2 linked regions of the Homo sapiens genome follow. The protein of the gene in region 1 interacts with the protein of each later gene in a pairwise test. Each region holds a gene or a part of one and is shown on either strand. Other genes may lie near its edges.

What was found.
Region 2: the proteins of FCHSD2 (region 1) and CCDC183 interact in a two-hybrid assay, tested with the Homo sapiens proteins (one large-scale study listed by BioGRID).

What each region holds. Positions count from the first base shown.
Region 1 is NC_000011.10:72,887,183-72,890,994, forward strand, and holds part of FCHSD2 (F-BAR and double SH3 domains protein 2), read right to left. Parts: intron 2,764-3,812; coding exon 2,647-2,763; intron 393-2,646; coding exon 288-392; intron 1-287. UniProt on the Homo sapiens protein: Adapter protein that plays a role in endocytosis via clathrin-coated pits. Contributes to the internalization of cell surface receptors, such as integrin ITGB1 and transferrin receptor.
Region 2 is NC_000009.12:136,802,651-136,806,462, reverse strand, and holds part of CCDC183 (coiled-coil domain-containing protein 183), read right to left. Parts: intron 3,800-3,812; coding exon 3,677-3,799; intron 2,537-3,676; exon of another isoform or gene 1,962-2,536; coding exon 1,836-1,961; exon of another isoform or gene 1,702-1,835; coding exon 1,647-1,701; exon of another isoform or gene 1,107-1,646; coding exon 1,006-1,106; exon of another isoform or gene 879-1,005; intron 414-878; exon of another isoform or gene 386-413; coding exon 225-385; intron 79-224; exon of another isoform or gene 1-78.

The sequences.
Region 1 (3,812 bases):
TCTGTGGTTTATTATGTACCTTTTAGAAACTTTAAAATTAGTATCTTCATTGTGACTTAAATCTTTTGTATTTAATGTTTCATGACTGTAAACTTTACAGCATCTTTTTGTTATATGTACTGCCTTCCACAGAGCAGGTACTCAACAAATACTACTGTGGACACGAATGAAGACGGTGAATCACCTTCATCTCAGTGTGTGTAGAAACTCAGTTTTAAAGATGTATATCACAGCTGTGACAGTGTCATTAGACCTGGGCAAAATGCCACAATTAGCTGCCACCTTACCTCTGCTTTACGAATATTTTCTCTAGCTTCATCTATTTTCTGTTCTAGCTCTGCTCGGCTTTGTTCTGATACAGCAGCTCCATGACACTCCAGATCATTTAGAACCTATTAAAGAAAATGGGACAATAATGATGACTGTTTTTTACTTTTCATCTTCCTTAAGTGATTAAAGTATTTACATAATTCAAAGGGCTTTAGTGACTAGTAGCCATAATTTTTTTTCATTTATTTATTTTTTGAACATTTTGAAATAATTATAGACTTACTAGTAACAAACTTACTACAGACAGTCCCTTCAGTGGGGAAGCCAGGACCAGCCACTATCTGATTGCCGCCACATGAGAGACCCCAAGGGAAACTGCTAAGCTGAGACCATCCAATACTCAGATTAGTGAGAGATAATGTAAAAACCCTCTTGTTCTATGGCATTAAGTTTGAGGTGGTTTGTTAAGCAACATTACATAAGTGGAACACTGAATTTGAGACACCTGTGAGATAGTGAAAAGAAGATGTCAAAACAGGCAAGAGATTATATGGATACACAGTAGTAGCAAGGCCCAATGTTGAAGATGTTAATTTATGATTTGGTGGTAAAGTAAAACCATGGAAGTGACTGAGAATGCCTATATGAGGGTAAAGAATAAGAAAACAAGATAGCCAAGTATAGGAATCTGAGAAACTGAATATTTCATTGTGGGATGGAGAAAGAGGAACCCATGAAAAAATCTAGGTATGGCCAGAAAGGCAGAAGGAAAGCCAGGACAATGTTGAATCGTGGATGACTAGAGAAGATAACATTTTAAGACATGGAATTGTTAATTGTGATGAAATTGTTGACAGATTAAGAAAAATGAGAAATCAAAGTGTCCACTTGGAAGCTAGCAACACAGACATCATTGGCGATTTTGGTAAGCTTAGACAGGGGAAGGAAAGGACAGGAAAGCTCAAATGTAATGGGCTAAAAAGTAAGTGGGAGGTGAGATTCTATAGATAATAAGCATAGGCAATTCTTTTAAGAAGCAGGATGTGAAGGCAAAGAATGAGACGGATATAGGTATCAATAAATGAAACAGAAAAAAAGTACTATACTCCAAATAATTTCTTTGTGCTTAGAGTTTAGTCTTCGAGATATATTTTCTTTCTTTCTTTCTTTCTTTTTTTTTTTTGGAGACAGGGTCTTTCTCTGTCACCCAGTCTGGAGTTCAGAGGCATGATCTTACCTCAATGTAACCTCCACCTCCCGGGCTCAAGCAATTCTCCCCAACCTTAGCCTCCCGAATAGGTGGGAAGATAGGTGTGCGCCCCCATGCCCGACTAATTTTTGAATTTTTTGTAGACACCGGGTTTTTTGCCATGTTGCTCAGGCTGGTCTCAAACTCCTGGTTCAAGCAATCCACTTGCCTCAGCCTCCCAAAGTTCTGGGATTACAGGCGTGAGCCACTGCGCCCAGCCAAACATATATTTTCATGAAATCTATAATTGTGTCTTTCTTTTTTCTTTTTATTGAGACAGAGTCTCGCTGTCGCCCAGGTTGGAGTGCAGTGGCGTGATCTCAGCTCACTGCAAGCTCCGCCTCCCAGGTTCATGCCATTCTCCTGCCTCAACCTCCCGAGTAGCTGGGACTACAGGTGCCCGCCACCACACTCGGCTAATTTTTTGTATTTTTAGTAGAGATGGGGTTTCACCGTAACACATGTTAGCCAGGATGGTCTCGATCTCCTGACCTTGTGATCCACCCACCTCGGCCTCCCAAAGTGCTGGGATTACAGGCGTGAGCCACCGCGCCCGGCTATAATTATGTCTTTTAAAAAATATGTCTTGAGGGATGAAAACTTATATTAATTCAACATATGTCTCTTCCCCTGCCCATAATACACTATCACAATTTTCTTTGTTAATTTTATGGTAAACAGGTAAATTAATGTATTGCTGATGGAGGGCTTAAGGAAATTCCAACATGAGTAGATAGCTGACAGCACACTGCTGAGTGTTGAGAAAGTACAGAAAAAACACATATAATGCTTGAGCAAAGGAGTTTGAGACCAGCCTGGGAAACATGGCAAGACCCTATCTCTACAAAAAATCTAAAAAAATTTAGCCAGGCATAGTGGCATGTGCCTGTGGTCCCAGCTACTTGGGAGGCTGAAGTGGGAGAACTGCTTCAGCCCAGGAGGTTGAAGCTGCAGTAAGCCATGTTCACACCACTGCCCTTCAACCTGGGTGACAGAGCAAGCCTCTTGTCTCAAATAAAACAAAACAACACATATAGGATATTTTTCACATTAATAAAACTCAGTTCCTTAAACTGTTTGACATTTGGCTTAAGGTGAATGTAACTAGGACTTTCTCTTACACTTACCCGTTGTTGGTGAACAATGTTTTTATGCTCACGTGCCACACGTGTGGCCCATTTTCGAGCTTCCTTATTTAGACTGTGCTCCTCTGTGGTCCCAGTTTCTGATTCTAACTGTCGGCTCTACAATACAAGAGAGAACAGAGATAAAAATATTGCTATCCTTATTGTAACCACTACTGCTTTGTAGATGGATCAGAAGGCCTTCACTTAATCAGCACTCAAAACATGAGGCACGCTCCACTACTGCTGGAAGCAATGTCTTAACGTCACAGAAAGTTACCAGAAGAGTAAGATCAGCATAAAACCATTAAAGACCATAAGCTTTTTGTCTTACACTGCTGAACACAAAAGCATCATCTATAATACTGCAGACTTATCTTTTTGGGTGTGATGGACTTATCTTTCCGAGTGGGAAGGAAGCTAGCTAAGGTAAGCAAAGAAGAAAATGTATTCATGCCAACCTACTATGGTGATAAAATCATTGCATAAATAAAAATGGAAACAACTTAATAGTTTAAATGTGAGTAAAGAATCATTAAAGAGAAGTAAGAACAAAACAATATAATAACAGCAACACAATCTTGCACCCCTCCCCCTGCCCCAAGGCAGACGGAACTCTTTAGAGGTCCACCATCAACTTGCCACCAAACCTCAAAAGCCAGCTTTTGCTCTTTCTCCAGGCTTCATATGAAAGATAAGGGTGCTAGATCAAATGATCACCAAGGGTTTCTTCTAGCTCTAAAATGCTATGATTCTGATTTACAAAGAACAAACCACAAAATCTAAATAAAAATAGTAATAGCTAACTTCTATTGTGCAAGGTACTATGGAAAGTGCTTCATATAACTTTTTTTTTTTTTAACAACCTGATGATGTGGGTCCCACATCATTTTATAGAAAAGAAAACAGAGGCTCAGAGAGGTTAATTTTTCCTGGATGTCCTAGATGTTAAATGTTACAACCTTAATTGACCGATTCCAGAATCAGAGCTATTAAACACAAAACTATTTTAATTCTCTCTAAATTCTTAAAGACCCAAGAAAAACAAACTTTATTGAGATAATTAGGAATTTTTTTTAAAATATAAATTACCCAAAGAGGCTTTTAATATAGAAAGCAGCAAAATTGTAGAATGAAAAGAATTTTAGAAATTCTGATCACGGCTCACT
Region 2 (3,812 bases), on another chromosome or scaffold:
CCGAGAGCCATGGTGGGCCACCCAGGAGCCCAGTCCTGAGTTGGGTGCTGTGCCAGAATCAGGGACTCAGAAGCTCAGGTGTGTGCAAGTGGAGTCCCCTGGCCCCTCTGTGGGACACACAGGCTTGTTGGCAGTGGGTATACTCCCAGCTCCCAGCCTGGCTGCAGCCCGGGGCCTTTGTGAGACTGGGGTGGGTGGCCCGCAGCCCCGGAAGCCCGGGGCACCTGATGGAGCTAGGCTTCTGGCGGAACTTGAGCACGGCCTCCTCCAGCTCCAGCTGCTTCACCAGGGCCTTCAGCTGCACCCGCCACTCCTCACAGTCCTCCATCTGCAGCTCCAGGTTCTCCTCCGTGTTCCTCTGGGCCAGGAAGCGGCTAGTGATGTCCTGGCCAGTCCGGGGGAGAGAGAAGCAGGTGTGGGCCAGGATGGTGGGCAGAGGGGGCTTCACAGAACTGGTTTCTTCTGGGCCCCTCCTAGACGCTAGTGCACTTTCTCTGTGCTCATTCACAAGTGTGATCACAGCTCACTGCAGCCTCAACCTCCCAGACTCAAGCGATCCTCCCACCTCAGCTTCCTGAGTAGCTGGGACCACAGGTGTGCACCACCACACTTAGCAGGGGTGAAGCGCTTTGTGGATGTCATTGCACACGACCCTAATGGCAGGCAGAGAGGGTAGATAACCCCATGTAGAGATAAGGAGATCATCACTGAAGGACGTTGTGTCACTTGAGTCACTTGTCTGACAGTGGACAAGCTTGTGTCAGGGCAGTGGTTAGGAGCTCAAGGCCTAATAATAATAAACGCAGATACACAGATGGGATTAAGATAAAAGGATTTGGGGCGGCCGAGGGAGTTGCCACTTTGTGTGTCCATTTCAGAGTGCCTCAGACCCCAGCCCAGCTCAGCCACCCTCCTGCCATGCTCCGGGAGTGCCAGGGAGCATTACCCAGACGTGAGAGGCTCAGCCACCCTCCTGCCATTCTCTGGGAGCGCCAGGGGCATTACCCAGACGTGAGAGCACCGTACAGCACTCTTGACCTTCTCCACCACAGCAGTCACGCCCGACTGGTATTCCATTTCTGCTGTGGAGGTCTCTTTTCTCCTCACTGGCAGAGCAGAGGGGAGGGGCAGTCAGCATGCAGGGATGGCTCAGGGGCTCTGTGTAAGGCTGTCAGACACCTCTGTACCTGCCCAGCTGCTGGGGCGGCCACCCAAGACACAGGCATCCTTCAGAGATGCCTGCCCCCGCCCCAACCTGCTCCCTCCTCAGCCCAGCCCTGCAGGGACGCCCCAGGCAGCCCCAGAGCAGAGGTGGACCCGGAGTGAGTGGCGCAGCACTGTGAGCACTGTGGGCCCGGTGGTGCTTCTCAGAGGCAGCTTAGGGGTCAGGATGCTCATCCTCTGCAGAGTCACTGGGGACTGGGCCCTTGGTGCAGGGCCCTTGGGTGCTGGGGCCAGCATCTCTGAGGCCACATTTGGCTACAGGCTCTCAGCCTCTGGAGGGAGAGGCAGGGACCTGTCCTTCCCTTCACCCTGGCGACCACATGTCACACCTGGCCTCAGGGTGACTTGATCCGTTGGCCTGAATCAGTGCCAGCCTCTCCTTGGGACCCTGGCTGGGGGCAGGTGGGGAGCTGAGCGCTTACATTTCAGGGTCTCCGTGCTCATCAGGTTCGAGGGGAAGTCCAAGTCCATCTGGCCCTGATGGGAGGTGGGGGCGGGGAAGGGATGAGACATCCTTGGCAGGGAGTGGGCCCTGAGTGGTGGCCCTGAGCCTGTGTCCACCCAGCTGTCATGGGGATGGGCAGCCAGCCAGGCCCTGGCCTGGGGCTTACCCGGCGGTACTTCTCGCTGGTCTCCTTCGTGTGGATCTTGTCGATCAGCTTCTTCTGCTGGTTGAGCCGGTTCTCCCTTGCCCGGCGCTCCTCGATGAAGGACGCCTCCCTTTGCCTCATGTTCCTCTGGGGACATGCGGGTGGGCACAGGGTTGGGGAGCTGTCTCAACAAGGCCCCTAATGGCAGTAAAGCCAGCGGGCGGTTGGCCATGCTCACCTTACTAGACTTTGGAACTGCATCCCCGGCCAATGGCCACACCCTTTTCCTAAACCACTTGTGCCCGTGGCCCCTCAGCTCACGGCCCTCCTTGCCCATGCCTCAGAGCATGTGCCAGCCCAGACGCTCTGCTGCCCTCCAGCCGCTGGCCCCCAGCTGCCTCCTGGCCAGGTCCACCTAGAACTCACGGAAGTGCATTCAGCCTGCCTGAAGACAGATTCATCCTCTTCCCCAAAACCTGGCCTCTTCCAGCGTGCCCTTGGGCAGCTAAAACCGTCATCTGCTAACCCCTGCTCACGCACCCCAGACACTGCTCTCACCCTCGCCACTCTCGTTGCCAGCGCTTAGTGGGGTTGCCTCTTGAGGAGTTCTCAGCTCCGTTGCTCCTGGCCACCCCTTCTCCACCCCGGGTATACCCAGGTGATCAGCGCTTCTGCCCTGGCACCTTCCAGTCCCTGCAGCCTGAGTACACCCTTTCTGAAGCACAGACCTGGTCACATCTTTCCTCCACCTCCTCCCAGGGCTCCAGGTCAGTCCTTGGGCCCCCAGCCCAGCCGCCTCCGTGGACTCCTGGGGCCTGTGCCTCTGCAGCCTCCACTGCCCTGGCCACACGCTGCTCCATGTATCACACCCCTCCCAGCCCAGGGCCTTTTCCCAAGTTGTACCTCCTCCTCCCTAGCCCTGGCCACACCTGACCTTTGCGGGTTCAATCCCTCAGCCCAGCTCAAGCACTGTCTTCCTGGAAAGCCATCTGCCACCCCACCTGTCTCTGCTGAGCTGGCTCAGGGGCTGTGTGGCATTTCTTCATGGACTACTGGATGAGTGCCACCCACTTCAGGAGGACAGGGTCTGCCTGTCCCGGTCCCTGCTGTATCCCCAGAGCCTTGCAGGGACCTTGGCACAGACTGGGTGAATAGGTGACCCCCGCCCTGGCCCGGCCAGTTCTCTCCCTCTCCTCTACTTCATGGCTCCTGTGCTGGATGGGACCTGCTCTGTCCAGTGGGTGAGCAGAGCAGGCTGGCCGGGCTGGCCACTGGATCCTTCTGGGGATTGTAGGCAGTGTGGGCATGGGGGTCTCCTGAGAGACCCTGGCCAGAAGACACAAGAGAGCCCGCCCTGGGGGGCCCCAGCCCTGGGCCCTGAGCTCACCTTGACCCCATCCGAAGATCCAAGAGGGCTGGCCCTGGGGGGCCCCCAGCCCTGGGCCCTGAGCTCACCTTGACCCCATCCGAAGATCCAAGAGGGCTGGCCCTGGGGGGCCCCAGCCCTGGGCCCTGAGCTCACCTTGACCCCATCCGAAGATCCAAGAGGGCTGGCCCTGGGGGGCCCCCGGCCCTGGGCCCTGAGCTCACCTTGACCCCATCCGAAGATCCAAGAGGGCTGGCCCTGGGGGGCCCCCAGCCCTGGGCCCTGAGCTCACCTTGACCCCATCCGAAGATCCAAGAGGGCTGGCCCTGGGGGGCCCCCGGCCCTGGGCCCTGAGCTCACCTTGACCCCATCCGAAGATCCAAGAGGGCTGGCCCTGGGGGGCCCCCAGCCCTGGGCCCTGAGCTCACCTTGACCCCATCCGAAGATCCAAGAGGGCTGGCCCTGGGGGGCCCCCAGCCCTGGGCCCTGAGCTCACCTTGACCTCATCCGTGATCATCATGGCATCTTGGGACATGATCTTCATATCCGACAGCTCTGAGCAGTAGTTGACCACGAGGTTCTGCAGCTTGTCCAGCTCAATGGGGTATCCTGCCAGCACCTGTGTTGAATGG